Homo sapiens: one gene and its partners. The protein of the gene in region 4 interacts with the protein of the main gene of each other region in a pairwise test. Each region holds a gene or a part of one and is shown on either strand. Other genes may lie near its edges. The genes, in order: JRK, ZNF835, EFHC2 and TXK.

Region 1 (7,770 bases), on a different chromosome or scaffold from region 4:
TGGCAGCACCTCCTAGCCCTTGGAGGAGCTTGAGGCCTGCTGTTCTAGAGAAACTTCTAATGCCTTGTTTTCTAGAGGCAGTTTGGCGCTCTGTGTCGGAGAGAGGAGTTTAGAGACCTGCTCCAGATGGGGTTTGTAAGATCTTTGGCGGGGAGGGTAGTGAGGAGTTCCTCCTCCCTGCATCCCTCCACCCCTGCCTCTGCTCCTCAGGGAGGAATAAGGGATTTGAGAAGCTCAGGTAGCCCAGCGAGCAGTTACAGCAAGAAGCTTAGGCTGGGCGGGTGGGAGGTTTGTTCTTGGGTCCGCCCAGCATCGGACTTCCTGGCTTCCTCTGATGGCTTCTGCCTGAGCGCTTCCCCAGGAAAGGCCGGGCTGCTCCTATGAGAGCCACGTCTCGTTTCCAGCCCTAGCGAATGGCTTCAGTTTGCTTGGTGGGAGTTGGGCAGAGTCCACCTGAGCAGCACGTGCAGGGGCTGGGCAGGCTGGGCTGCTCCCGGGGCCACCCTCTCCCCACAGTGCATGCCAGCACTTGCATGGGTCCTCTCAACAGCCCTTGAGTTTCAGCTGGAGTGTCCCGGTGAGGAGAGTCGTGAGGACGCCATGTGTGTCCTGGGCGCGCCCCATCACTTTCCTCTCTGTTCCCTCTGCTTTCCAGCCCCTGAAGTGCTGTGCCTGGAGATACCATTGTGGACCCTGGAGAGGCACCTGCTGCTTATGCGGTAAAACCTCTACCACCCCAAACCTGGTCAGTTTGAGGGGAGCCGCTGCCATAGTATCCACAGAGAAGGCCGGAGTTCCAGCCGTGTGGAGCAGCAGAGGGGAGTCTGACAGGGTCACCTCCTCCACAGAGAGAATTGGCAGCTGACTGCACTGCCAGGAGCCAAGGCCTAGGTGTGTGGAGCCTGGAAGACCAGGGATACCTGAGGCAGGAGGTGCAGCGTGTGGAGTGAGAAACCCGAGAGGGACTGGGGCCTGTGCTCAGGATCAGCAGAGCAGGCAGGCAGAGTGGAGAGGGAGAGACGGAGCCCCAGAAGGGGAGCAGGAGGAGAGGGAAGTAGTGGCAGCAGCCCAGGCCAGGCGTGTGTCCTGCAAGTGCTAGGACCAGCCACCCCTCCCCATGGCCTCCAAGCCGGCTGCCGGGAAGAGCAGAGGGGAGAAGCGGAAGAGGGTGGTGCTGACACTGAAGGAGAAGATTGACATCTGCACGCGCCTGGAGAAGGGCGAGAGCCGGAAGGCACTGATGCAGGAGTACAATGTGGGCATGTCCACCCTCTACGACATCAGGGCCCACAAGGCGCAGCTGCTCCGGTTCTTCGCCAGCTCCGACTCCAACAAGGCGCTGGAGCAGCGGCGCACGCTGCACACGCCCAAGCTGGAGCACCTGGACCGCGTCCTGTACGAGTGGTTCCTGGGGAAGCGCTCCGAGGGCGTCCCCGTGTCAGGCCCCATGCTCATCGAGAAGGCCAAGGACTTCTACGAGCAGATGCAGCTCACTGAGCCCTGCGTGTTCTCCGGAGGGTGGCTTTGGCGCTTTAAGGCCAGACACGGCATTAAAAAGCTAGATGCATCCAGTGAAAAGCAGTCAGCCGACCACCAGGCCGCGGAGCAGTTCTGTGCGTTTTTCAGGAGCTTGGCTGCTGAGCACGGGCTGTCCGCCGAGCAGGTTTACAACGCTGATGAGACCGGCCTTTTCTGGCGGTGCCTGCCAAATCCCACTCCGGAAGGCGGGGCTGTGCCTGGCCCCAAGCAGGGCAAGGACCGGCTGACCGTGCTGATGTGTGCCAACGCCACGGGCTCCCACAGGCTCAAGCCCTTGGCCATCGGGAAGTGCAGCGGTCCCAGGGCTTTCAAAGGCATCCAGCACCTGCCCGTCGCCTATAAGGCCCAGGGGAACGCCTGGGTGGACAAGGAGATTTTTTCCGATTGGTTCCATCATATCTTTGTGCCCTCGGTGAGAGAGCACTTCAGAACCATAGGTTTGCCGGAAGACAGCAAAGCCGTTCTCTTGCTGGACAGCTCCCGGGCTCACCCGCAGGAGGCCGAGCTGGTGTCCAGTAACGTTTTCACCATCTTCCTGCCTGCCAGCGTGGCCTCATTGGTGCAGCCCATGGAGCAGGGCATTCGGAGAGATTTCATGAGGAACTTCATTAACCCTCCGGTCCCCCTGCAGGGCCCCCACGCCCGCTACAACATGAACGATGCCATATTCAGCGTGGCCTGTGCCTGGAACGCAGTCCCTAGCCACGTCTTCAGGCGGGCCTGGAGGAAGCTGTGGCCGTCGGTTGCGTTTGCCGAAGGCTCCTCCTCTGAGGAGGAGTTGGAGGCAGAGTGCTTCCCAGTGAAGCCCCACAACAAGTCCTTTGCACACATCCTGGAGCTTGTGAAGGAAGGCTCCTCCTGCCCGGGCCAGCTTCGCCAGCGCCAGGCCGCCAGCTGGGGGGTAGCGGGAAGGGAGGCAGAAGGGGGACGGCCCCCTGCTGCCACGTCGCCAGCAGAGGTTGTGTGGAGTTCAGAAAAGACTCCGAAAGCTGACCAGGACGGCAGAGGAGATCCTGGTGAGGGCGAGGAGGTGGCCTGGGAGCAGGCGGCCGTGGCCTTTGACGCAGTCCTGCGCTTTGCGGAGCGGCAGCCATGCTTCAGTGCGCAGGAAGTGGGGCAGCTGCGGGCGCTGCGTGCCGTGTTCCGGAGCCAGCAGCAGGTGAGGAGGCGGCGTGGTGCCCTCGGGGCTGTGGTCAAGGTTGAAGCCCTCCAGGAGGGCCCTGGTGGCTGTGGGGCCACAGCTCAGTCTCCCTTGCCCTGCTCATCCACAGCAGGTGACAACTGATGGCTTCTCTGCCCTGCCCTGGCCACTGGCCCTGTTTCTCCCCACACCCTGGAGTGGCATGGTCCTGTGCCCCGACCCCACCTGAGGCAGGAGGGCATGTGCAGACACTCAAGAGCCCTTCCAGGAGTGGGTCGCCCACGGGTGTGGCTCGGGTGCCCAGGACGGTCTGTGCCCGAGGTTCCTGTCAATACAGGTTTTATTTTATCACTTGCCGTGTCATCCGAAAGTGAGGAAATGTTTTGGAAGGGTCCACCCTAGCCTAGAACAAGCCAGAGCCGCACCCTGGCTGGAATGGGGGCCAGGCTGAGCCGATCTGGTCTCGTGTTCGCTGGCTGATCATTGCAGTATCAGAGGGTGGAGATGTCAGTCTGTCCACGTGGAGAGAAGTTGCCCTCCAGGCCGACAGGAGGCCATGCCCACCGCCCCTGGACAGGCTTCGTCTCAGAAGGCTCTATCTGCTGGGCTGGCGGCCATCCCCGTGTTGGGTGGACCCCGAGCACGGTTGCCTGAGGTCCGATGGCCCGAGAGCTGGGACTCAGTTCTTGGCCTGCTAGCGGCTGAACAGGCCGCACATCTCACTTCAGTTGTGGCCTCATTCAGCAGAATGACTCTGGAACCATCCTCTGTTACCCGCAGATCCTGTCCCATGGGCTCTGGCCCCAAGATGTTGGGGGGCCCCACGGAGAGTTGACTTGGTAGAGTTCCTTTCTGGGAAGAAAGTAGGAGTGGCTGACCAGGCCCTGCTCATCACCCGGATAGAGGACACGGACCCTGTGTGGTATTTTGGCATTTTGGCTCAGAGTCCAATGTACCATGTTGCCCAGAATTTCATACTTATGGCCTTTACATGAATACGTCTTGATCAGACATTCAGAGATTAGTCTTAGGTTTGCACGTAAGTCACTGAAAACAGTAAAACAGGCTGCTTAGATTTCTAGCAGTATGTGTGCTCTTATCCCCAGCTGTTAGCACGTTAGTAATACTTTTGGGGAGGAGTTGTCTGTCCTGGTCAGTTTTCACAGAGGCGGTTGTAAGAGGATGTGGTTATTTTCTCCATGTCTGTAGTTGCTTTGCGGCATCTCCATTTCACGGGCAACACTCACTGCCTGCAGCTGAGATTCCAGAACGCCCTGTGTCCACAGTGATTAGCCTCGTCTTTCAGCGAGCATAAAATAGGTGCATTGTCCTTTTCTTTTCTTGAGGCAGGGTCTCACTCTGTTGACCAGGCTGGAGTGAAGTGGTGTGATCCCAGCTCACTGCAGCCTCGACCTCCCTGGCTTGAGTGATCCTCCCGCCCCAGCCTCCTGAGTAGCTGGGACTAGAGGCACGCACCACCGCGCCTTTTTATTTTTTTTGTAGAGACAGGGTCTCACTGTGTTGCCCAGGCTGGTCTTGAACTCTTGGCCTCAAGCGATCCTCCTTCCTCATCCTTCTAAAGTGCTGGGATTACAGGTGTGAGCCACAGCACTCGGCCTAAATAGGTTTTTCTTGCTATGTTATTTTCAGTGCTTTGCCCTTGAATTCTTTTCCTCTCTTAAATTCATATCATTTGGCCGAGTCAGCACGTAGTTTGCATTCCAGCGTCTGCTGTTGATTCCACTGAAACCTCTGTTCTCATGAAGGAGAGGATTTGGCTCGCTGTGGTTTCTCGTACTTTCACATCTCTGTAGATACAGGGGCAAAAGTCATTGCTGACAGAGCCCTATCTATGTCCTGGAAGTGTGTGTTTCTTGCTTTGAATGCATGTGTGAAGATTATAAAAGCCAAATAGTTTTTAAAGATCTCGGTGCTGAACGACAGTCCCAGTTCCCATTTGTGTCCCATTGTCTTTGTGGTGTCACCCGCACTGTTTGCTTCATTGTCTGGGGAACTTCTGCACATCATGTACTTTGTGCCATTTCTGGGCTCACGTGTCACTCCTAATAGAGCCTCTTAACCAAGACTGCTGGATTGCAGCTGCTTGAGGCAACACAGGAGGTTAGAACATGTCCCGAGGGCTCTGAAACAGTAGGACATCCTGGGTGGGTGGAGCTGGGGAGGGCATGGGCAGGCCAGCTGGCCGAGCTCCTGGCTGGCTCTCCTGAGTCCTCTGGACATGGCTTGTCCCTGTCAGACTGTAGCTCTTCAGGACCTGAGCTCTTCCCGTTCTTGATCTGCTCTTGTGCTGACTGTGCTGGGCTGATGGGTAGGCGCTTGTCCCCAGTGAGTGGCTGTGTCCTCAGGGTGCCCCTCTTCCAGACCAACTGCAGCAAGGCCTGGAGCCTGACTCTAGGTGCAGCCCTTGTGGCTGGAATCCCTTGTGCCACCCAGGGGACTCGGGCCCTGCTCCTCCTGCAGCCCCTCCTCACCTGGGCTCGCTGCTGGAGTGAGGTTTTTAGGGAGCCCAGAGCGTACTCATCTCTGAGCTGCTGGGCCCAGCTGCCTGGTGCATACCTCTTGCCTCGGTCCTGTCCCCCAGAACGCTTTATGGAGACTGCCGTGTCCTCCGAGCACTTTGTTTTCACTTCCTGACCCGTCTCAGAAGCTCAAGTGGTTGAATGTTTTAGCCTCAGAATCTTTTTCCCCAAGCCCTCTCAGGTGGAGCCCCGCTGTACCAGACACCACAGCACAGCTCTGTGAGGCTGTGTCTCTTCACTCTGTTTCTGGGGCTGCTGAGGCCCCTGGGAAGCCCTGGAGCTTGCCAGAGCAGAGCGAGAAAGTCTCTGGTCCTGTTTAAATGCCTCCGCGTTTTATCTGTGAGCACCAGGCTGGAGCCACTCCCTGTCTTCTCACAGTGCCCCTGCAAGTTGCAGCCTCAGTTTTCCAGTGGCTCGTGGGGTAGCAGGTGCTGCGTCATATGGTTTGGGACCTCTGTGGCTGCTTCCAGCCTGCTAATAGAACCTCTTTCCACCACTGCCTTCATCTTTGGGGTGGCACCCCTGAGTGCTCAGGCCTGAGGGCGCTCCTGTGTCCTCACTCGGGACAGGCAGCCTCCACTCTGGGAGCTCCCATCCCTCGGGATGCCCAGGAGAGGCCATACTTTCAGGGTGGCATGGTGAATTCAGGGGTTAGGATGGGTAGGTGGTCTTTCAGCCCCTTCTACGTTGGGGTTGGTTTACAGAACACCTGTCCTGCCTGTGCCAGCCTGGCCTTCTGCGAGCACCCCAGGCACGCTGTCCTGGAAGTTGTCTGTCTCCTGCATAGGAGGGTCTAGAGCAGACCTTGCCCTGGGCCTGTCTGTGCGTGACTTCCATATGCTTCATTCGTGCTCAGCCATGGCTGAGCATGCGATGGAGAGCACCTGGACTGCCCCTGACGTCGCAGGCCACTGTTCTTATCCAGTGGGCCAAGTGATTGATTGCTAGTGGTGGAGTTGATTGGAAGAAAGGAAGTCGCAGCCCCTGCCCACGGCTTCCCCAGCTCGCTGGGGTTGGAGGACTGTCATCAGTTGTCCCCAGTTAAAGTCCATTTGGAGGAGGTTCAGGGTCCCAGTGGCTGGATGTGCTTGTGGAGGGACACGGTTTGAGGCAGGGGTTTGCAGAAGGTGTAGACTGCATCCATTCTTGGGAGGCTGTGGCACAGGGCAGCGACAACTTGGGACAAATCAAGACCCGTCCACACTGCACCTCAGGGACCTCACCTCACGCCCCACATAAATGTGCTTATTGGGGATCCGGGTGTGGTGGCTTCTGCCTGAAATCCCAGTACTCTGGAAGGCCACGGCAGGAGGATCACTTTAGTTCAGGAGTTTGAAACCAGCCTGGGCAACATAGGGAGACCCCATCTCTACAGAAAGTAAAAGAAAATGAGCCAGGTGTGGTGGCATGTGCCTGTAACCCCAGCTACTCAGGAGGCCGAGGCGGGAGGATCCCCAAGCCCAGGAGTTTGAGGCTGCAGTGAGTTATGGCCTCTGCACTCCAGCCTGGGTGACAGAGTGAGAGACCTAATCTCTAAAAACAAAAAATAACAAAATGTGCTTTGGGGTCAGGTGTGGAGATCAGGGTCGGGGAGGTCATGAGGTAGGTAGGGGTCAGGATGTGGACAGTCATGGGCTGGTGGGTGTGGCAGCCGTGAGGGGTGGGTGGTGGCCTGGGAGGCAGGGCCTGGGCAGGGCTTCTGCACTTCTGCTGCTTACCCAGCCCCCTCTGGGTTCGAGGACTCTCCTTGACAAGGGCTGAGCTCTCGGGCACTGCGTTGGACTCAGCTGCCTACTGGGAGGCTGGGGAGAATGGACCTGTGAGACCTTGTTTGTCCTCTTCCCTGCCCAGCTCTTGTAGACCCCAGGCCTGGCTGTCCGCAGGGCCAGGAGCTGCAGCCATGGCAGCCACCAGCCTCCCACATGAGCCCCAGCTCCCAGCCCCACACGCCCACTCCTTTGCCCATGTGGTGTCAGCTCTGGCCTCTGCTTCTACACATGGACCCTCAGACCTTGCACATCTGTTGTTTCCCTTGCAGGGCAGTGATGATGACATGAAATGAGGTGGGGTCACTCCTGTTTAGGGATGAGACTGGGGCCCAGGGAGGGGCAGGTGTGAAGTTGCTGAGGGCAGAGGGAGACCCAGGGCTACCTGCTCCTAATGACCAGCCTCACGTTCTCCACTGCTCACTCCCTGCTGTTCACCAGCTGCATGACCTTGAGCAGTGCACTCAACTGTAAACAGAGGTGAAAACACTCCTTTACCAACTGTTTTAGGGGCCACTCTTGTTTGAGGCCTTGAACCTCCTTTCAGTTCCGTGGTGGTCCTGAGCCTCTGAATCTGGGTATGGCCCCTGCTGGGTCCTGGTCTCTTAGGCAGCACGATGGCCTCCCTGCTCAAGGCCCTGCACCCAGGGGCAGATTGTGGGAGGCCCACTGGCCATGGCTGGGCCCTATCGCAGAGAGCCTGTCAGCACGGCCATTTCCACACCCAGGCTGGCTGGGAAGCAAGCTACGAGGTGCTCAAAGGCCCTCTATGTCTGCAGGTAGC
Region 2 (8,209 bases), on a different chromosome or scaffold from region 4:
TGATGAGCCAAATTGTGCCCCACCACCAAATTTTATGTTGACGTCCTAACCCCCCATTCCTTGGAATGTGACTGTACTTGGAGATGGAGAAAGGGAATTAAGATAAAATGAGGTCATTAGCATGGGTCCCAAGTCCAATATGACTGACATTGTTTTTTGTTTTGTTTGTTTGTTTGTTTTTTGTTTGAGATGGAGTCTCAGTCTCTCGCCCAGGCTGGAGTGCAGTGGCGTGATCTCCACTCACTGCAACCTCCACCTCCCGGGTTCAAGCTATTCTGCTGCCTCAGCCTCCTGAGTAGCTGGAACTACAGGCATTTGCCACCACGCCTGGCTAATTTTTCTATTTTTTTTAGTAGAGATGGTGTTTCGCCATGTTGACCAGGCTGGTCTGGAACTCCTGACCTCAGGTGATCCACCCGCCTCAGCCTCCTAAGATGCTGGGATTACAAGTGTGGGCCACCACACCCGGCCCATGGCTGACATTCTTAAAAAAAAAAAAAAAAAAAAAAAAAAGAGTGTGGGAGAGATTAGGACACAGACACACACAGAGGGAAGACCATATGAAGACATGGGGAAGATGGTCGTCTGCCAGCCAAGGAGAGAGGCATCAGGGGAAACCAACCTTGGCCATAACTTGATCGTGAACTTCCATTCTTGAGAACTGTGAAGAAATAAGTTTCCATTGTTTAAGACCCTGGTCTGTGATGCTTTGTTATGGTGGCTCTAGAAAACTACTCCACCATCTGATCTCACGTTCCTCAACGTCACACTTTCATTTTCTTCCAGGGGGTGTTTAAGACTTAATGGAAGTGACCAAAGAAAACCACAGAAACCGGTTCCTGGAAGGAGCTGCCTGCCCTGGTTGCCAGAGCCTATAGCTGGGTCTAGAATCTTCCACCCCTGGGTAGAGGCTGCCTACTGGTGTGTGACAAACATAGCTGGGACATGGAGTCCCTGCCTCAGGGTCTCTGAAACGTTGTGTGGCCTGATTTGATTGTGCATTTCCTCAGCAGCCCAAGCCAGCATTTTCTGGGGACATTTTTGCCTGATTGTGAAGGTGTTTTCTTAGTGACCACAGAAGTACATTTTCTCCAGGCTAGGAAATGAAAGAGGCAAAGTGCTTTAAAGAGGCAAAGTGCTTTAAAGTGTAGGCCTGGCACAGTGGCTTATGCTTGTAATCCCAAGACCAGGAGGCCAAGGCAGGAGGATCGTTTGGGCCCAGGAGTTCAAGACCAGCCTGGGCAATATAGTGAGACCCTCATCTCTACAAAAACTAAAAAATAAAAATAAGTAAAAATAAATGTTAACACAGAGGAGGCATAGGCATCACACAGAGAGGGGTTCGAATCCCAGTTCCTCCACTTGCAACCTTCAAAATCACAGACAAAACACTTATCCTCCAGGAGCTTCCATCTCCCTGTGTGTCAAATGTGCGCTGCAATGTGCTTGACATGTAAAGAGACCATCTATCAGGTGCTAAGGCTACTGCAGCAAAGCACCGCCAACCTGTGGCTGCAGCAACAGACATTTATCGCCTCACGCTTCTGGAGGCTGGAAATCTGAAATCAGGGTGTAGGCAGGGATGGTTCCTTCTAAGAGCCATGAAGAAGAATTTGCTCCAGGCCTCTCTCCCTGGTTTGCAGATGGCGGCCTTCTCCCTGTGCCTCTACATATCATGTTCTCTCTATGCGTGTCTCTGCGTGCAAATGCACCCTTTTTATAAGGACAGCTGTCATTTTGGGTTATGGCCCACCCTATTTACTCATTTTAACTTTATTACCTCTGTAAAGAACCTGTCTCCAAATAAAGTCACATTCTGAGGAATAGGGGGTTAGCATTCCAACATATATTTGGGAGGGGGGTGAGCATAAATCAACCCCCAACAGGTAAATGTGGCTTTCTAAAGAAAATTGTCTTAAAAACCATATTTAAAGGAAATGAATATTTGAGTTGTTTCTGTTGTCCATCCTTTGAGGAAAATGTCCCTTCTCATGAAGCTTCCAGAAGGAAGAGGGAAGCACAGAATGCCTCTTGAGGTCTACGAATAAGTAAAATATGAACTGTAAATAAAGCATGTGTCATGGTTTAAGGGCAGCCGTGGGGCTACATAAAGTAATGTGGAATCTCACAATCAATGGCATGTTGGTTTAGTGAAATGCATTTTTTTTCCCATTCTATCTTCACAGATTTCTCTGCTTTTCCAATTATCTAAAAATGATCTCATGCCTATGTTTCCAATGGCCAAGGGAATAATTTAGGAAGGCTAACAGAATTCCTTCAGAGCAGGCACCTTAAAATAATGCCGGCCAATAGTAAATGCCATGTGCATGTCAACTATTAAAATTATTTAAGGCCGAGGTGGAAGGATTGGAGTTCAAGACTAGCCAGGGCAACATAGCGACACCTCATCTCTACAAAAAATAAAAGTTAAAAAAAAGTTAGCCAGTGTGGTGGCACATGCCTGCAATCTCAGCTACTCAGGAGGCTAAGATGGGAGGATCACTAGAGTTGGGGAGGTCGAGGATGCAGTGAGCCGTGATTGTACCACTGCACTCCAGCCTGTGCAACAAAGCGAAACTGTTTCTAAAAAATAAAACTCTCTCCTGCCTCTGCCAGGAGAGAGCTTGTTCCTCCAACCCCAGGAGGCCAGGCAAGCATGGACAGGAGCCAAGGGAGCAGGGTCATGAACTTTTTCATCTTTGCAAAGTGGGCACTTGGCATCAGGGTCCCATCACCAGAAAGCACCAAAGCCCCTGGCACCCCACCCACTCCATCCTACCCAGGGACCCCAAGTAGGCAACTGCTATGGCAGTGGGTCCAGCCCAGGCCGGCACTGCCAGCCTCCTCTCCCTGCAGTAGGCACCAGCTCTACCTCCCCCGGCAGGCAATGTCCTGGCTTCTCAGCCCAGCACCATCTGTTCCCCTAGACTTCTCAGGGGCCAGCCCAGTCTGGGCCACCCTTTCCCTCATCCTCGGCTCCCACACAGGTGACAGGCCCAGCAGATAGCTTCTCTCTGGGAAAGGTTGGATGCTGCCTTACATCCCCTTCTATCCCTCCTCCCATCCACACACACAGGCACCCACCCACACCAGGTCTGCTTGTTTCTCACATGTAGGGAGAGGGGGGGAGACCAACCCCTTTGTGTCTTTTGAAATACGAAGAAAAATGTGTGTTCAGGAGCATGACTCCAGTGCTGGGCTCTTGGGCCCAGTTCAGTCTGTCTTGTCTCAAATCTAGGCACTTTTGCTTCAATTTTATTTTTTTTAAGAAAACAAAAACAGAAATCTGCACTAATTTACCTGGTTCTTAGGAAAACTTTTTTTTATTTTTTACATTTTTTGGTGTCCGTTTGTATTGAATAATTTGCTACATTTGTAAAATGTAAGAGGTATATATAATATATGTATATTTCTAACGTAAAAACAATTTTTTTCTTTTCAAGATTTTTTCTTAAAAAGATGAGAGAAACATATTTTTTCAGGAAAAACAAACTTTAAAAAAAAAAGAGGAGAAATAAAACCTTTTCTCCCCTTTCCCCATCCTCTATCTATCCCTGTTTCCCAGGAACAAATCAAAAGGTGGATTATCTTCTGAAGAATGGAAACTGTTAGTCCAGAATGATGTCTTTTTCTCAATGCAGTGAGTTATAGATTCTCTAGTTTTCTCCCTAGGGATGGGAAGGGGGCATTGACGCAAGCCTGGAGAGGAGCCCGGGGAGCAGGGTCATGAAGTTTTTTCTTCAGTGAAGGAGGAATACAATCAAGGGTTTTGTATTCAGAATGTTGTGCAATATTTTGGAATAGGACATTGGTGTGTTTAGAGATTTTAGTTTAAAAACAAAACAAAAAGATTGATCAAATCTGTACAGTTTCTATTGTTCCAGATTTTTTAAAGTTTGTATTAAAAGCATGATACATAATAAAAATAAATAAATAAATAAAACTAAAAAGTAAAATGAAATTCTTCATCTATGTTAATGGATTTGCCACCTTCTTTGCCATAGACTGGAATGACATCAGCTACCTGAGACCAAAATAAAAGTGTGGGTTGCAAACCCTGGCACCTACCTTTTTAGATTCCGCAGCCTGCAGTAGGGACTTAGCCTGTCTGAACCTCAGCTTCCTTCTTTCTTCTTCTTTTTTTTTGAGACGAAGTCTCGCTCTGTCACCCAGGCTGGAGTGCAGTGGTGCGATCTCAGCTCACTGCAACCCTCGCCTCCCAGGTTCAAGCCATTCTCCCGCCTCAGCCTTCCAAGTAGCTGGAAGTGCATGCCACCATGCTCGGCTAATTTTTGTATTTTTAGTAGAGACGGGGGTTTCGCCATATTGGCCAGGCTGGTCTCGAACTCCTGACCTCAGGTGATCCACCCGCCTCGGCCTCCCTAAGCGCTGGGATGACAGGTGCCCGGACTCAAGTTCCTTCTTTCTAAGCCTGTGGGCTCGGCCTCATCCCCTGAGCAAGAAAAAAGTCCCACCCCTGAGTTACTGGAAGCGCCCACCGCCATGCACTGAGGCTGTAGTGGGCGGGGCTCGGGGCAGCAGCCCGGCGCTCCTCGGGCCCCCAGGGGTCAGCGCCCTGCGGACCTAGCGTGTGCAGACGCTTAGCCTTCTGGGAGTTGTAGTTTCGATGACCCAGGCTTTGCAAGCTTTAGTCGCGGTGCCGGCGAGCGCGCAGCGCCCCCTGGGAGTCGTAGTTCCTAAGAACCAGGCGGGCCCGATGCGCAGGCGCAGTCCACCCCGGCCTGGTGCGCGGGCTCCTCCGCAGCAGCAGAAGTCTTGACCTTAGCTCGTCTAAGGAAGGAGGCACCAGGGTCTGCGTTGGCCCAGGAGGACCCGAGACTGAGTAGAAGCGGAGCCGACTGCACCAGGCTAGGAGGGGGCCGGCCAGCGCGTTCGAAGGTGATACCGGGAGGCGAGAGCAACGGTGTGTAGTGTGCGCGTGTTCCTGCAGGTGTGTGACCGCGTGTGAGCCCGTCCCCGAGTGCCATTGTGTCTGCACCTGTTCACTTAGCGGTGTCAGCCCGTATAGGTGTGTGACTGCCTGTGAGCCCGTCCCTGAGTAACACAGCGTCTGCACCTGGTCACTCGACGGTACCAGCAGGTGCAGGTGTGTGACTGCCTGTGAGCCTGTCACTGCATCTGCACCTGCTTACTCGGCGGTGCCAGCCCGTCACTGTGTCTGTACCTGCTCACTTGGCGGTGCCAGGCCGTGCAGGTGTGTGACTGGCTGTGAGCCTGTCCCTGAGTGTCACAGCGTCTGCACCTGCTCACTCGACGGTACCAGCAGGTGCAGGTGTGTGACTGCCTGTGAGCCCGTCCCTGAGTGTCACAGCGTCTGCCCCTGCTCACTTGGCGGTGCCAGCCCATCACTGTGTCTGTACCTGCTCACTCGGCGGTGCCAGGCCTTGCAGGTGTGTGACTGCCTGTGAGCCCGTCCCCGAGTGTCACTGTGTCTGCACCTGCTCACTCAGTGGTGCCAGCCCAGGCAGGTGACTGCAGGTAAAGGCATGTAACACTTTATCGGTGTGTTATGTGCTCGTTCATGTGAAGCGGTGTCTGCATATCACAGCATGTCACATACACGTGTGGCTGCCTTTGGGCAAGTCTGAAAGTTCTCCTGGATGTGAGGTGTGTGACCCCACGTGTGCATGTCTGGGTGTGCCGCCGTGTAGGCTGGCTCGGCCCGTGTGCCTGCCAGCACAATGATGGGTGACCTGGCTGTGCGAGCCTGTAGAGTGCCGTGCTGTCTGAAGTGTGTGCATCTGCACATGATGGAGACGCTGCACATGTGGGCTTTGGCTATGCTGGAGCTCTATCCACCGAGTGTGACTGCACATGTGTCCAGCCATCCCCTGTGGGTGTGTCCCAGTAATGGCCGGCCTGTGTGGAGCAGGTGGCATGTGTGACCTTGTGCGTCTCTGTGCACCTCTTCACACAGGGAGCTACGTGTGGGGCTGGGTGTGTGTGTAGCTACGTGTGCCCGGGACCCTGTGTGCATGTGTGAGTGTGGCTGCAGGTGATGGCTTCCCACCTGCCTCCTTGCATGGGGGTTAGGAGGGCGACTGTGTGTCCCTGGATATGGGTTTGGGTGTCTCTGCATGTCTGTGTGTGTCTGGGCAGGTATGATTGTGTATGACCCTGTGTGTGTCAGAGTGTGATGTAATGCATGTGTCTTCCTGTGATCTTGTGATATAATAAGAAATATATGTTTAATCTTTATCCCCAGCTCCTGGTACCAGAGCCCCTAAAACCCTTGGAATTTCCTGAGTGACAGGGGTAGAAGGAGTGTCTTCTGCAACTCTTAATAAGCCCCCTGCAACCACACCTGTGTTTATGCTAATGGAGGACTCCTGATAGGCCCCCAAGTACATTTATGCTAATGGAGGACTCCTGATAGGCCCCCAAGTACATTTATGCTAATGGAGGACTCCTGATAGGCCCCCAAGTACATTTATGCTAATGGAGGACTCCTGGTAGGCCCCCAAGTACATTTATGCTAATGGAGGACTCCTGATAGGCCCCCAAGTACATTTATGCTAATGGAGGACTCCTGATAGGCCCCCAAGTACATTTATGCTAATGGAGGACTCCTGATAGGCCCCCAAGTACATTTATGCTAATGGAGGACTCCTGGTAGGCCCCCAAGTACATTTATGCTAATGGAGGACTCCTGATAGGCCCCCAAGTACATTTATGCTAATGGAGGACTCCTGATAGGCCCCCAAGTACATTTATGCTAATGGAGGACTCCTGGTAGACCCCCAAGTACATTTATGCTAATGGAGGACTCCTGATAGGCCCCCAAGTACATTTATGCTAATGGAGGACTCCTGATAGGCCCCCAAGTACATTTATGCTAATGGAGGACTCCTGGTAGGCCCCCAAGTACATTTATGCTAATGGAGGACTCCTGATAGGCCCCCAAGTACATTTATGCTAATGGAGGACTCCTGGTAGACCCCCAAGTACATTTATGCTAATGGAGGACTCCTGATAGGCCCCTAGGATGGGCTGGTTGCCACGGGAGCTAGCCCTGATGAGCATTCCAGCCTTCAGCCAGCCCCTACCTCCTGGGAGGGGAGAGGGCTGGAAGTTGAGTTCATCACCGATGGCCAGTGTCATCACACCTATGTCAGTCACGCCCGTGTCATGGAACCCCCATAACCACCCTAAACTTAGGGTTTGCCGAGCTCTGGGGCTGTCGAGCACCCAGAGAGGGCATGGTGCTCTGAGCTCCTCCTTATACCTTACCCTGTGTGTCTTCCATCTGGCTGTTCCTGAGTTGTATCCTTTATTGGAAACCAGTAACCGTAAATAAAGCATGTCCCTGAGTTCAATGAGCTATGTGAGCAAATCACCAAACCCAAGGAGGGGTTGAGGCAGTTTTATGGTTGGTAGCTGCCTGTGCCTCCCAGTCAGAGCAGATTGGAGACTTGGTTGTTGGTGTGGAGAAAGCCCACGTGTCAGAAGTGCTGGGAGTAGACAGCTTTCTTCTACTGCCCCCAAGCAAGCCTGTGTCTCCCCTTGGGCTCCTTTGTGTGTGCACAACACCCAGGTTTACCCAACCCCGCTGTGAACCCACCTGCCCTCCCCCTACACACGAGGTGGGTACCCCTGCACACTCCGGGGATGCCGGTGGACGTGGCACCTGAGCCGACCCAGCCTGGCCCCCACCAGCAAGTTCTTACCAGCACACGTGACTTCCTGTGTGAGCTGACCCCCACCCCACTCTACCGCATCTCCCCTGCCTTGCACCTCAGTTGCTCTGTCCAGCCCCACCCCCTTTACCTTTCCTCTGCCACCCTTGTCACCATCCTGCCCTGGGACCTTTGCACTTGCTGTGTTCTCCACCCTGAACACAAACATCATCACTCCCTCAGGGTCTCCTCTTGTCCTCTTGCTGAGGCACACGCTGCGGGAAGAGCATGTCAGGCAGAAAGAATAGCCCACACAAAAGCCCTGTCTTGACCAGGTGTGGTTGGTGGTGCCTGCCTGTGATCCAAGCCCTTTGGGAGGCTGAGGTGAGAGGATCACTTGAGCCAGGATTCCCAGGCTGCAGCGAGCTATGATTGCAACACTGCACTCCAGCCTGAGCAACAGAGCAAGACCCTGTCTCAAAAAAAAAAAAAAAAAAAGCCCTATTTTAGGTCCTTTGGGGTGTGACGGAATGCCATACTCTGGTGGCTTAGAAACAGCATTTATTGGCCGG
Region 3 (7,770 bases), on a different chromosome or scaffold from region 4:
GACTTTCTTCATCCTTTATATTCACTATTGCTAAAACAAGAACTATTTTGTTCCACAGCAGCAGCGGAAGACATAAGCAGGAAACTAATTCCAGAGAAGATTCCCCCAAGCTGTGTTTATTTCCATCTATGTTTCAACCATGGTTGCTGCAGGTAGAGGCAGCAATGGACAATCACCTATTAAGGACCCGGTTTGTGTAAGGAAGGCACTGAGAACGTGAAGGGCAACCCAAAGAGCCACCAATCACAGTTTCTTAGTCAACTGAGGACTGCCACGATCACACATAAAGAACACAAAACACAACGCAGGAAATAAGGCGGTAAATGGGCAATATGAGCATGCAAGCTTATGTAGACAGATGGTTCTTGCTGAGATGATCGGGGAAGGCTTTAATGAGGAGGGGGGATTAAAGCCAAGTTTTGAGGGAAGGTCAGGATCTAGATGGGAAGAGGAAGAGGCATGAGGATGCTGCTATCAGGCAAGGGGACAAACAAACTAATAATTGAGTGGAAAAGTCCAAAATATACCCAAAGGACAAACAGTGAACATGCTGGATTAACTGGAGTATTAGGCTTGTTTCCCATTATGGAAAAGAAGATAGTTTACAAAGAACAGTATTCTTGGTATCCTTCGCAATATTGATATACTCATGTGTTACTTGTATAATTTAAAAACACAAATTGTAATGAAAGGGATACTACTAAGTCTGACAATACCAGACTCACAGGTATTGTCTGTGGCTGGTGTGACAAAGTTTGTTGGCCACTATTGAACCCTCTTTTCCCTTTCCCACCTCCAAAAGTAGATGGTGAAAAAAAAAACAAGATAATTTCCCAGCATTCCTTGTAGTAAAGGATGGCCATGTGCATCAATTTTAGCAAATAAGATGGAAGGAGGGAATCTACTGGGGGGCTCCTGGAAAACATTTTGTTTTCTCATATAAGAAGAGCTGTTTCCCCTCCCTCTCCTTCCTGCTTGTCTTGAACATGGTTACATGTAGTTGTGATGACTGGAACTGAGGCAACTATTTTGCAACTATGAGGTCACAAGCCTAAGAAAGAAAAGCCAATATTCTGAAGATGGCAGAATGCAGAGATAAAAAGAGCCTGGGTTCTTTATGACATTCATCAGTCACTGCCTAAATCTGAAACTGCTACACCTCTAAAGTTCTTATGAGAAAATTAATTTGGCTTAAACCACTGTTAGTCAGGTATTCTGTGACTTATAGTCAAATGTACCCTAGGTGACAGAGCTACGAAGTTCAGTACAGAATGCATGGTGACCAAAATTAGGTGTTTGAATCCTACATAGGCAAAGAGACTCTAATTCCTGAAATTCAAATGAACATTTAGGAATAGCAATGGAATATGTTATTTCCAAAGTATGGATGGCAGCTTCAATAAGCGGCCCAATCTGAAATAATGTAATTTCAAGGATATTTTAATAGTTACTGGGAACAAAGTGACAGAATTCTTTATATCAAAACTATCCTGTGATCTAGCATAGTAGACAGCAATTGTTTTGTCTGCCCAGCAATCCCATACCACCAAAACTGGATTATTTGCCTTTTTGTTTGTTTGTTGGCTTTTTGAAATGAAGTTGCACTCTTGTTGCCCAGGCTGGAGTGCAATGGTGCGATCTCGGCTCACCACAACCTCTGCCTCCCAGGTTCAAGTGATTCTCCTGTCTCAGCCTCCCGAGTAGCTGGGATTACAGGCATGCGCCACCACGCCCGGCTAGTTTTGTATTTTTAGTAGAGACAGGTTTCTCCATGTTAGTCAGGCTGGTCTCAAACTCCTGACCTCAGGTGATCCGCCTGCCTCAGCCTCCCAAAGTGCTGGGATTACAGGCATGAGCCACCGCACCTGGCCTATTTGTCTTTTTATTATTGAGTTTTGGGAGTTATTTACATATTCTGAATATAGTCCCTTATCAGATAATATGCTTTATAAATATTTCCTCCCACACTGTCAGCTGCTTTTTCACTTTTCTGATAGTGTCTTTTGAAGCACAGTTTGGCTATTTATTGCAACATTATTGGATAACAAAAGACTGGAAATAATGTAACTGTACACCAAAAGGGGATGGTTGAATAAACTATTGTAAGTCTACAAAATGGAGTACTATGTAACTATAAAAAGAAATGAGGAAGAGCCCTATATACCACTACCAAGTGATCTCCAAGATATACTGTTAAAATGAAAAAAGGAAGGTTCAAAAGACTGTGTAGATTATGCTACCAAGTATTGAATAAAAGGGGAACATGTGAATAAATTTAACAATTTGCTGTTTTAAAAATTAAAAAAAAAAGAAAGAAGAGAAGGAGGAAGAGAAAGAGGATAACCTCAAACTAAATAAAGTTTTTTCTTTAAGTTATTATGGAGAGAGGGAGAGAATAAGATTGAAGAGACAGAGATAAAAGCTAGAGCTCTCTGAAAGTAACTTACTTTGCAAATTTGACTTTGAGACCATACAAATGCCTTTTTTTAAGTTCAGAAACAAAAGCACAATGAAACAAATGAACCTAACTAGATACTGAGTTGGTGACTTAACCATACCGACAGCAATGATTTAAATGAAACTAAAACCCAGTAATTTGACTATACATTCCTGGTGGGATATACTCTCACAACAGAAATAGCTATAAAGAAATCTTAAACTATTTTCAAAACTCAAATTGTTAATAATGTTATTATTAATTAAAAATTATTATATGGTTGTATATTTTTATTTATGTTAGGATAAGTAATTCAGCTAATGTACTTATGAAGCAAGATTACATGTAAATATATAAAATCAAAGAAGTAAAAACCCTATAATCCTTAATTTGCATTGAAAACAATAGTTTTTGAACTCATGTTATATTTTATCCTTAAATATATGTACATATTTTTTAGCCTTGCTTTAAGAGAATGAAAATTCAAGCCATAGACTGGAACAAAATATTTACAGACCATACATTCAATAATAGACTTGCACCCAACTTGTATCCAGACTATATTAAAAATGACTTTCAAAACTCATCAGGCGGATCGCCTGAGGTCAGGAATTCAAGTAAGGAAACTCCCCAATTAAATATGAGTAGAAGACACGAACAGACATTTCACCAAAGGGGATATACGGATGGCAAATAAGCACATAAAAAGATGTTCAACATCATAGCCATTAGGGAAATAAAAATTAAAATCAAGAGGAGATACCAGGCCGGGTGTGGTGGCTCAGGCCTGTAATCTCAGCACTTTGGGAGGCCGAGGTGGGTGGATCACCTGAGGTCAGGAGTTCAAGACCAGCCTGGCCAACATGGTGAAACCCCGTCTCTACCCAAAATACAAAAATTAGCCGGGCGTGGTGGCACACACCTGTAATCTCAGCTACTCGGGAGGCTGAGGCAGAAGAATAGCTTGAACTGGGAGGCAGAGGGTTGCAGTGAGCCAAGATCGCGCCACTACACTCCCCTGGGCGACAGAGTGAGACTCAGTCTCAAAAAAAAAAAAGAGAGAGAGAGAAAAGAGGAGATACCACTATACACCTATTAAAATGGCTAAAATCCAAAACACTGGCAATACCAATTGCTTACAAGGATTTGGAATAACAGAAATTCTCAATCATTGCTGGTGGGAATGCAAAATGGTAATTTCTTATCAAGATAAACACACACCTACCATATGGCCAGTTCAAAATTTACATAAAAGTAAGCATCCTGCCATTCATAGGAGAGCAATGACCATTTTGCTATAATTTTCAACTTCTTATACATGTAAGCAAAGCTTTCCTTGTTTAACAAGTATTGAAAAGGCCAGAAATCTTCTCATTCCAGTTGAAAATGAAATTGATGTGTGCTTATTTCAAGCTTGACCCGGAATTATTTATGTGGCAAAATATAAACACAGATTTCAGAGTGGAGAGGTAAATTTTATTATTTATTTTTAGCTTTTAAAAAATAAGACTGTTATGTACATACAGGTCTATAAAGAAATCAAGATTATAATTTTGTAACTGCCTATATTTAAGCCCAATCATGTCAGTCAGTAAAAGAACCTAATTTTTAAGTCTTGTATAAAATTATATCTTAGGTTATATTTTTACTCATAATGCTTTGTCATATAGTTTTAGTAGCTTTATTATGTAACATTGTCAATACATTTTGATGTTGAAAACAGCATTAATTACGAGTTTACAACCTTTATTTAAATTAAATCATCTTAGCCTACTTTTTGAAAAAGTAAATTCCATCTTAGATATAAACAGAAATAACTTGAATTATTTAACATGTTTATATTATGCTGACTGAAAAGTTTTTTGAATGTATGGAAAGGAAAGAAAGGTAAGCTAAGTTTAACTATCTGTTTTGGGTTTTTTTTCCCTCAAAAAAGCTGGTAAAAAGTCCTTTTCAGTTTTTAATAGGGGAGAAAACTACTTTTGTTCATACCATATACCATATATCATTCCTCAATAGCACCCTCTATAATAGAAACTATAGAGAACTTTTAGGCCTACTTGGATAAGGTAAAAAGGAAAAATAAATCAAGTAGAAAATTTTACCATAAAACAACCTGAAGTTTCCTCTTCTACATTCCCACTTGCTTTAGGGTTGATAACCCTTTGTGAGAAAGGGAAAGAGTAGGTAAATAAGTTGGCTGAAATCAAGAGATCCACAGAAAACTACCATTTTTTACTTTAAAAAGACAATTATTATTGGATTATTATAGCTACAATATTCTCATTCCAGTTGAAAATGAAATTGATATGTGCTTATTTTGAGTTTAACCCAGAATTATTTATGGGAATTTATTTATTTCACATAAATTCGGAACTGGCCATATGGCAGGTGTGTGTTTAACTTTATAAGAAATTACCATTTCGCATTCCCACCAGCAATGAGTGAGAATTCCTGTTATTTCAAATCCATGTGAGCAATTGGTATTGTGTTTTGGATTTTAGCCATTTTAATAGGTATACAGTGGTATCTCATCTTGATTTTAATTCTTATTTCCCTAATAGCTATAATGTTGAACATCTTTTTATGTAATTACATATTTATTATCACAGATTGTGCTAATGTACCATGGGCTATAGATATAGTTTTTATGCAGGAGTTCTCTAAGACCTCAAAATCATTTCAAAGACTCCTCCAGGGTGAAAAGATTGAGATTTGAGGTGATGAAAATGTTCTGAAACTAGTTAGAGGTGTTAGTTGTTGCACAACAGTGTGAATGTACCAAGTACCACTGAATTGTATACTTTTAAATAGTTAGTGGTTAATTTCATGTTACATGAAATTTACCTCAAAAAATTTAAAAATATACATTAAGAAAGGCTGACAAGGCTCTTTGAAGGGTGAGAGATGAGATCTGACCTTGAAAGAAGCTGAAGATCTAAATTTAAATAAGAATTGCCCAGTCTGGACAATACAGTGAGACCGCATCTCTACAAATAATAATTTAAAAAATTAGCTGGGTATGGTGGTGCATGTCTGTAGTCCTAGCTACTGTGGCAACAGAGGTGGGAGGATGTCTTGAGCCCGAGAGGTTGAGGCTGCGTGCAGTGAACTGTGAGCTGTGATCCTGCCACTGCACCCCAGCCTGGGAGAAAGAGCAAGACCCTATCGCAAAAAAAAAAAGATGGAGATGGCTCGAATGAGTGTTTTTCAAACACTGATTGCACAACCACAGTAATAGGCATATTTTAGTGCAGGCCAGTTCACATACATACACAAGCACACACAGGAAGGACAAAAAGGTCCGTGCAACACTTAACTCCTCTCAAGCATAATACACTCTAATTCTTCATTCTACCCCACTCTCTTCTTTTTCTTTTTTCCTTTTCAAAAAAAAAAAAAGCTGGTCATGATTCATTAAATTCCTTTTTTTTTTATTGCTGCAAATTCAAATATGTTTTCTTTTTTCTTAAGGAGGACTTTGCTTCACTACAAATTAGATGATGGGCTATTTACAGCAAACCCTCCTAAGATGGTGGCAAGGTAGCTTCATTAAAAGCAGAAAGAGCGGCCAGGCGCGGTGGCTCACGCCTGTAATCCCAGCACTTTGGGAGGCTGAGGCGGGTGGATCAACTGAGGTCAGGAGTTCGAGACCAGCCTGATCAACATGGTAAAACCCCAATTCTACTCAAAATACAAAAATTAGCCAGGCGTGGTGGCACACACCTGTAATCCCAGCTACTCAGGAGGCTGAGGCAGGAGAATCGATTGAACCTGGGAGGCAGAGGTTGCAGTGAGCCGAGATGGCGCCATTGCGCTCCAGCCTGGGTGACAGAGCGAGACTCCATCTCCAAAAAAAAAAAGCAGAAAGAGTGAGCTCTTCATCATTCATTAGAGACACTCAGGATCAGGATGGGCCACACAACCATCTGTCCAAAATACTGCAGAAAGGATTTTTGGCTTTGGCTGGAAATGTCCCTTTTAATTTTAATATTTTCAATTTTGATAATATGCCCAAGATTCTCTTGCTCAATACAAGTTCAGCATGGAAATTGTTGGAAAAAAGATACAGTGTATCTAGAATTTAGTTGTGATATTTCCCTAAGGTTTTCAACTCATATCAAAATAATTGTAATGTCATCAGAGGTACAAATGTTCATATTTTAGAAGGCACCATACTTCTTGTATTTGAGAGAGAGAAATACAGGTTGCGTATCACCTAGCCGTGGACAGAAATCAATCTATTGCTTTTGACTGACCACTGGCAGCTAAGTAAGGGGCACATAAGTTCCTTTTCAATTCTATGGAAAAGCAATAAAAGTTAGCTGTGTTATAATTTTAAATCCAAACAGCCAAGTAATTATGCTATCTACAGGAGGCCAAGGTTTTTCACTTGGTAATTTAATTCAGCAAGCAGGGGAGGGGGGAAGGGCAAGACTAAAAGGCCAGATATGGCTTTACTGACTTTCTAACCATTCTATGCCAGAGAACATCCAATCTTTTAACTAAGTACAAGTTTTTAAAATATTAATTTGTGGGCAACACACAGTACATTTAGTACCAAGGCTAGTGTAACAATTTTTTAAATGTAGTCACCTAATTTTGGCATATACTAGGATACTCAATAAATAAATACTGATTTGTTGAATGAGTCCAAGGTACTGTCATTCTCTAGTACACACGCACATACACACATGCACGCACACACTCCCATTGTTCTCAGGCATAAAGTAAATAAATGTTTTAAATATTCATGAGTCTAGAAATAGACCCACACGTAGCTGGATGCTTGATTTTTGACAAAGTGGCTCTGCAGAGACATGGAGAAAGAGTGATCTTTTCCAAAAATTATTCATCAAAAACATCATTAAGAGAAGGAAAAGGCCAATCACAGACAAGAAGATACCCAAAATTTATATAGAACTTCTACAAATCACTAAGAAATAGGCAGACAACCCAGTAAACATTAGACAAGAGATAAGTAAGTACTACACAAAAAAGTAGTGACCAATAAATGGTCATACAAATAAAGCCAGGCACGGTGGCTCACGCCTGTAATCCCAGCACTTTGGGAGGCTGAGGCGGGCGGATCGCCTGAAGTCAGGAGTTCAAGACCAGCCTGGCCAACATGGTGAAACCCCGTCTCTACTAAAAATTAAAAAAAAAAAAATTAGCCAGGCATGATGGCGCATGCCTGTAATTCCAGCTACTCGGGAGGCTGAGGCAGGAGAATCGCTTGAAGCCAGAAGGCGGAGGTTGCAGTGAGCCGAGATTGCACCACTGCACTCCAGCCTGGGCAACAGAGCAAGACTCCGTCTAAAAAAAAAAGCAGT
Region 4 (7,770 bases):
CCTGAATCCAGGCTGGCTCTTCACAAAAAGGAAGAGAAAGATATCTTGACTGACTGACATAGCACAGCATGATTGGCAGTTGAGTGAGGCGTGAATATGAAAATGTTAGAGAATGTTGCAAAAATAAAACGGCTAGACCTGCAAACACTAGCCACATGTGGCTATTTAAATTTAAATTCCTTAAGATTATATAAATGTTTAAATTCAGTTACTCAGTCGTGCTAGCCACTTTTCAAGAACCCAATAGCCAGAAGTGGCTGCCATATTGGGCAGCACAGATATAGAACGTTTCAGCATCTCAGAAAGTACTCTAGGACACCACGACCCTAGAGATATATTTGAATGACTTGACATGTGTGAGGTAAAGAAAGGGCTGGGAGAAGGGGCATCTAGCATACCAGGCTCCCAAGCTCAGTTCAGGGTATCTATGACACCTGAGCCATTATAGAAAGGAGGATTTCAGTCAGAAAGCAAAAGGCATGTTTTCATGAGGGACTTTGAAGGTCTTGGGGCACAGGTTGTGCTTTCAGTCTCAGTCAACAGAAAAATAAGAGTGTGGAAGTCCCTCTCACACATAGAAAAATGATTGCTGAATATTCTTACATTTTAAAAAGTTTTAAAAGCCTGTGATCTTTGCACAGTTTTTGAGTCAGCAACTCTAAAGGAAGATATTCACCATAAGTGACCCCATATCCCTGGTCATGGAGCCAAGGATTGGAGCATTTTTTCCTACTTCACTTAGGGGTGTGGTTTAGCTCTGATTCCAAGAGGAAGAAGAGATGGCACTGTCAGCATCTTTTAAAACCATGGGAAACAGAGCTACTCATAGTAGCCACATTCTCACAGGGGTCATTGACAGTAGGGTCAGCGGAAAGACACCCCTCTTCATGGCTTATAAACAGAGAGCATCAGTAAAATAAACAGAGCAGAAGACAGCACAAGTGCAAGTGAGGGTCCTTATTGAGACTCTGGGCATAAATTGTGGAGCTCTGTGAGGAGCCTGTTTCTGCGCATGAATCCTGAAATTTGTCTCTCAAAGATAGCATAATCACGTTTGACTCTAATGCCCTAAGCACATGGGGTAAAGCTGTAGGCAATATCAACTTTTGCACCTGACATAATGACTCACATCTGTAATCCCAGCACTTTGGGAGGCCAAGGTAGGAGGACTGCTTGAGGCCTGGGCAACAAAGTGAGACCCCATCTCTAGAAAAAATTTTAAAAAATTAGCTGGTCATGGTGGCACATCACTGTAGTCCCAGCTATTCAGGAGGCTGAGCTGGGCGGATTGCGTAAGCCCAGGAGGTCAAGGCTGCAGTGAGATGTGATTGTGCCACTGCACTGTAGTCTGGGAAACAGAGCAAGACTCTGTCTCAAAAATAAATCAATCTTTTCTTTTCTTTTTTTTTTTTTTTTTTTGAGACAGTCTGGCCCAGTCACCCAGGCTGGAGTGCAATGGTGGGATCTTGGCTCACTGCAACCTCTGCCTCCCAGGTTCAAACAATTCTCCTGCCTCAGCCTCCTGAGTAGCTGGGATTACAGGTGCCCGCCACCATGCCCAGCTAATTTTTTTGTATTTTTAGTAGAGACGGGGTTTCACCATGTTAGCCAGGCTGGTCTCGAACTCCCAGCCTCGTGATTCGCCCACCTCAGCCTCCCAAAGTGCTGGGATTACAAGCATGAGCCACCACACCCGGCCAAATCAACTTTTTCAAACAAATAAATCGACATAACCACACCATTGTATTAATCAATGTTCTGATTGCAATTTGAGACAAATGTTGTTTACATGGTCCTTCTGACAGCATCCTACTTATCACTTCCCTTCCTCCTTCTATGTCTCAGTTCCACTTACATATAACATCTCAATAAGCATTATATTACACACACACGTGTGTATTATTTCATACACAACATATACTTCTGAGCTACTTACATTGTTATTGCAAAGATGCTCCTAAAACGGCTGCTTATTACTACTCACTGAACATTTTTCTGAACATTTTTTTCTTACAGCTTGCTGAGCATTTTTCTATGTCTTTCAAGATTCCTTGTAAAGTAGTTAATATATGTAAAATATTTTCATACATTGGGGCTCTCTATAAATGTAATGCTTTTGGAATATGAATAACCACATCACTCTTAAAATATTCAATATTCTAGTGTTTGTGGATTGATAATCAAGTGCTTTATTTTTTCAGCCAGGAGGAAACTTCTCATCAAGCTGCAATTTCCAGCTGAAACTGTCAGCTGGAAAGAGACCAAAGCTCTCAAAATCAAAGGGAATTTCACTGAGAAGGGCAGGGGTGTGTTGAGTCAGTGCCCAGAGGTGGAAAAGAAGCCCCTCTGGCTTTATTTCTAAGCTTGGCATTTCAACAAATAGAAAAACTAAGTTCTGGAGAGATTTCTTCCTGAGTGGAAGTTCCTGACACACTTTCTGCCTCCATTCCTATTCTAGTTTAATCTGTAGCAGGAGTCCTGACTGCCAGAAGACAGATGAAACCCATTACTATTAGCGTTGGAAAAGCAAGACAAAGCAAAGTTGAGTGAAGTAAATGGAAACACCATCTTTCTTTTTCAACCTGGAAATTTAACAAGCCTGGTTCTACCCTTAGTTTCCACCATTAATTCTTTTATTTATTTGCTTATTTATTTATTTATTTATTTTTTGAGACAGAGTCTTGTTCTGTTGTCCAGGCTGGAGTGTAGTGGCGCAATCTCAGCTCACTGTAGCCTTTGCCTCCTGGGTTCGAGCAATTCTCCTATCTCCGCCTCCCAAGTAGCTGGAATTACAGGCATGCACCACCAGGCCTGGCTAATTTTTGTATTTTTAGTAGAGACAGGGTTTCACCATGTTGGCCAGGCTGGTCTCAAACTCCTGACCTCAAGTGATCTGGCCACCTCGGCCTCCCAAAGTGCTGGGGTTACAGGCGTGAGCCACCACACACAGCCTCCATCATTTAATTCTTTTTTTTTTTTTTTTTTTTTTTGAGATGGAGTCTCACTCTGTCGCCCAGGCTGGAGTGCAGTGGCGCCATCTCGGCTCACTGCAAGCTCCGCCTCCCAGGTTCAAGATTCTTCTCCTGCTTCAGCATCCCCAGTAGCTGGGATTACAGGCATGCACCACCACGCCCGGCTAATTTTTGTATTTTTAGTAGAGATGGGGTTTTACCACGTTGGCTGGGCTGGTCTCAAACTCCTGACCTCAGGTGATCCACCCGCCTCGGCCTCCCAAAGTGCTGAGATTACAGGCATGAGTCACTGCGCCCGGCCCATTAATTCTTAAAGCTAATAAAACATCTAATCACTGAGGCTTGAGTAACACCAAGAGTTTCTGCAAGAACCAATCTCAAACAGATAAGACTCAGAAAATGCACTGAATTCCTCAGATAAAAGGCCATTGTTCAAAACAAAATGGATTCATGACTTTGTAGTGAGTTTGAGATAGTACTTCAGACTCTCAGGATCATGACCAAGACACAGATGCCTTTTCCTGCCATGACAGAGTTCTGAAGTAATGTTTGTGATAATCAGGTCTGCTCTCAGATGCTGGGACTGCCAACCTTCATAGGAAAGTAACATATGCTTACCTCATGCCAGCAGCTGTACATGACTTCATATATGGACATTGGTGCCAGGTGAGGGCGATATAGCCTGAAGCCTTCAGAAATAGCTTCCACGACTTGCAAATTTGACTTATTTTCAAAAGGCATTTTTCCTTCTGTAAAAACTTCCCACATTAAAACTCCTGCAAACAAAAATGCAGGAAAACAAGGGGTTAGAGAGAAATGATTGCTTGGGAACTGAAAGAACAATTTCAAACTACAAGGCATTATTTTTGTGCTCCAGGCTTTGGGCTATAACCATCCTGAATAACAGCGGTTCTGTCAAGGAAGCAAATCATGTTCACTTTAGTTTTCAAAGAGGCCTGTAACCTGAAAATAATCTAAGTGAAAACAATGCCTTTCCTTGTCCATGGGTCTTGATTGCCTCTCCTATCAGGAGAAAATGCCAGTAGCATTTTCTTTTCTTTTTTTTTTTTTTTGAGACAGGGTCTCGCTCTGTCGCCCGGGCTGGAGTGCAGTGGCATGATCTCAGCTCACTGCAACCTCTGTCTACCGGGCTGGAGTGCAGTGGCATGATCTCAGCTCACTGCAACCTCTGTCTCCCGGGTTCAAGCAATTCTTCTGCTTCAGCCTCCTGAGTTGCTGGGATTATAGGTGCCCACCACCACGCCCAACTAATTTTTCTATTTTTAGTAGAGGCGGGGTTTCACCATGTTGGCCAGGCTGGTCTCGAGCTCTGACCTCAGGTGATTCGACCACCTCAGCCTCCCAAAGTGCTGGAATTACAAACGTAAGCCATCACGCCCGGCCTAGCATTTTCATTTCTAAGCAGCAGTCACGTTCCTGCATCCTGAAATCAATGAACCTTTCTGCCATTCCATAGAAACTGACAGGATTATGTGAGCCTCTGCTGCCTACTTAGCCAAGAGTTTCAGCCAGTAAATGGCATGTGTCCCCTTCTTTCTGCTAAAAGATTAGACTGATGGGCAGAGCCCCAGAATATCTAGCAGGGGCTCTGTACATAAGTAGATGTCCAATAATCATTGATTGATTGATTAGTGAAACTCCTGCAAGAACTCCTAATTTGAGTTCATTTAATTATTCACTTATTCTACAAATATTTACTAGACATTGATGAGAGGCGAGGCCTCTGCTGGGGCCTGGAGATTTTATAAGTGTGAGATCAATCCATGTGCCTAAGGAGCTCACTGTTCAGTGAGGGAGACAAGTAGGTAAAATTCAGGGAGTTCTAATTGTTTGGCAACCTTCGATGAGGTCGTTATATTGCTCTTCATTGGTCTCTAAGATGTGGTCTCACAACCTAATTGCTCTTCAGTAGAGCTTCAAGTGTCACCTGCTGAGACTATCATATGTCCATGGAGAGCTAATGAGATTAATGACACAAGCTTAACTTTATTGTATGTTTTTAAATTTATGTTTTAATTTTTTTGAGGCAGGGTCTTGCTCTGTCATCCAGGCTGGAGTACAGTGGCACGATCCTAGCTTACTATAACCTCAAACTCCTGGGCTCAAGCAATCCTCCTGCCTCAGCCTCCCGAGGAACTGGGACTACAGGTATATGCCACCACACCTGGCTAATTTTTTTTTTTTTTTTGTAAAGACAGAGTCTTGCTAGGTTGCCCAGGCTAGTCTTGAACTCCTGGTCTCAAACAATCCTCCCACTTCAGCCTCCCAAAGTGCTGGAATTGTAGGCCTGAGCCACTGTGCCCAGTTTTAACCTTATTGTAGACAATAAAACTGACACCCTTCTGAGGACCCAGAACCCACAAGCCTCCAGGAAGTTTGGGGTGAAAGAGGATAGATAGATTTTTGCATATTTATTACCATTTTTTGAAAATCAACCCCGAAACTTCATTGGACGTGGGTCTATGGTGTCTCTTTCTCAATGAAGAACATTATCCAATATGAATATCAATTTATAGATCCCAAGGAAGCCTATGTCTAAATTCCACAAACTTTAAAGTTAAGGAAGTAAATGAGATGCCACCATTTTTTAAACTCAGGTTTTAAGTTCAGGTTAACAACTGAACAACTGGAAAATAGTCAACCTGCTTCACAGTTTAGACAATTAAGTTTATTAATTACACTCTAAACAATGTCATAAGATCATTTTTCCTTCAAGCCTCTGCGGAGTGGAAAACTTATCTGAGTTTGTTTTCTAGATCAGTAGACTCTTTGTTATGGTTTTATAGTGAGTGCCCATGGAGGAAGGAAAAGATCCAAAAGGCAGACTTATGTAAGAAGGTATGTGACACCAGTTGCCAAAGACAGTCGGGATGTGGTTAGAACACACAGAAGGAAGCACAATTACAAGAAGACTTTTTAAAAAATGCTATATCAATTAGGAAATCAAAGTTAAAAATAACACATTGCCCATTTTATTAAATCAAGCTCCAGCAAGTGAACATCAGATGCACTCACCAAATGACCAGACATCAGATTTACTGCTGTACTTATTGAAAAGAAAAACTTCAGGAGGGGACCACTTGATTGGGAACTTGGCTCCAAAAGAACTGACATACTCATCATCCAAAACGTACCTAAGTTTATCAGATTCAAAGCATATTGTGTTAATTACCTCCAAGCTCTATTTACTTCAAATCCCTTTAGTTAACTCTAAGTTGCTAAAAGACAAAGTATTTTACCCCAGAAAGGTTGTGGATGCCTTCTTGTTAGTAGAGTGTGAAAGTGTCCCTGATAATGTTTCCTCCCCAAACAAAGTCTCAATTGTATTTGTTTTACGTGGACCTCTGAAAATCATAATGCTGCTTCAGTTCAAAACATGGCTCACTGTTTATGTTAATTATGGTAAATTCTTAACTCTACAAAGAAGCCTGCTAAAGGCTCTAACAACCAAGATTATAAAAAGGAAATAAAAGACCACTCTTCCCAGGGGTGGGGAAAACAAAGACCACTCTTCTTAAAATGGAAATGAATGATTCAAAGTTGGATGTCGAATTTTCTTCCATGTGCATGTTTTTTTGTGGGGCATACAGAAGGGGGGAAAGTAAAAGTATATGAACATAATGCTTCTGATATGACAAATCTCTAATGCACTAGAATGGCCCTATATGGAAAGAAACCAAGAATAACTACCGTCTCCTTAAAAAAATAACAAGTTGAACCCTCTCTCTTTTTTGAGAATTGTACACCGGGATGTCCAAATGTCAGACACTGAGGAGAAGAGACAAAAATAAACTTGTGCTTGTTGCCCCTTAAATATACAATATAGTGTTTTCACAGCATTTATTAATGCTGCCCCTATACTCTCACTTTTTTTTTAAATACACTACCTCCCTCCACCTGTCAGCACTTTATTGAGTCAGAGGTCATTCTACTTAGGTAAAGAATGACTAACAGAAAACAAAGAGAGAAAAGCCACTGTTTATAGATTTTGAATTTTTCAAGTCTAGGCTCTTCAGAGAAGAAAGATTGAGTTATTAACAAAATATCTTGGAAAATGGGCCATGAACAGGAGTGAGATCTCACTACCACCACCCCTATTACCACCACTATCTAGAAAAAGATCCCCTGAGCTTTGGGGGGATCTTTTTCCCCCAAAAAGAGGAATGGGGGAAATAGAAGGGAAAGAAAAGGGGGGTACTAGACATTAGTAGATCAGTGGGTTAGGGTCCTGTATCTTGTACCCTAAAGGGCTGCCCAAGTACTTTAGGAAAGAAGCTCCTACTCCCACATTAGGTTGGTGGGATTTAAAAGTGACACAGAACCAGTGCTCTTTTCCCCAGGTGGAGCCCTTGGAAAGGCAGAAAGATGCCAGTGAACAAATGGCTGTGGATGTGCCTAGGTAAATGAGATCTGAGATCACACCATGGAGTTTTGTAATCATAAAGAACGCCGGCCAGGTGAGACTGCTCACACCTGTAATCACAGCACTTTTGGAGGTGAGGTGGGTGGATATTTGATGTCAGGAGTTCAAGACCAGCCTGGCCAACATGGTGAAACCCCGCCTCTACCAAAAATAAAAAATTAGCTGGGCGTGGTGGCATGTGCCTGTAGTTCCAGCTACTCGGGGGGCTGAGGCAGGAGGATAGCTTGAGCCTGGGAGGTCGAGGCTGCAGTGAGCCGAGAGAGCACCACTGCACTCCAGCCTGGGTGACAGAGTAAGACTCTGTCGAAAAAAAAAATTGCCAGTTCTGAATGAATCTTGCAGAAAAAATTCAGT

The links.
Region 1: the proteins of TXK (region 4) and JRK interact in binary tests that used the Homo sapiens proteins (3 or more experiments, as listed by UniProt).
Region 2: the proteins of TXK (region 4) and ZNF835 interact in binary tests that used the Homo sapiens proteins (3 or more experiments, as listed by UniProt).
Region 3: the proteins of TXK (region 4) and EFHC2 interact in binary tests that used the Homo sapiens proteins (3 or more experiments, as listed by UniProt).

Annotation. Positions count from the first base shown.
Region 1 is NC_000008.11:142,659,406-142,667,175, reverse strand, and holds part of JRK (jerky protein homolog), read left to right. Parts: exon of another isoform or gene 1-131; intron 132-655; 5' UTR 656-1,117; coding exon 1,118-2,824; 3' UTR 2,825-7,770. UniProt on the Homo sapiens protein: May bind DNA.
Region 2 is NC_000019.10:56,668,291-56,676,499, reverse strand, and holds the start of ZNF835 (zinc finger protein 835), read left to right. Parts: upstream 1-4,742; 5' UTR 4,743-4,924; exon of another isoform or gene 4,925-4,951; intron 4,952-8,209. UniProt on the Homo sapiens protein: May be involved in transcriptional regulation.
Region 3 is NC_000023.11:44,332,903-44,340,672, forward strand, and holds part of EFHC2 (EF-hand domain-containing family member C2), read right to left. Parts: intron 1-7,770. UniProt on the Homo sapiens protein: Microtubule inner protein (MIP) part of the dynein-decorated doublet microtubules (DMTs) in cilia axoneme, which is required for motile cilia beating.
Region 4 is NC_000004.12:48,067,927-48,075,696, forward strand, and holds part of TXK (tyrosine-protein kinase TXK), read right to left. Parts: intron 6,128-7,770; coding exon 6,009-6,127; intron 3,749-6,008; coding exon 3,591-3,748; intron 1-3,590. UniProt on the Homo sapiens protein: Non-receptor tyrosine kinase that plays a redundant role with ITK in regulation of the adaptive immune response. Regulates the development, function and differentiation of conventional T-cells and nonconventional NKT-cells.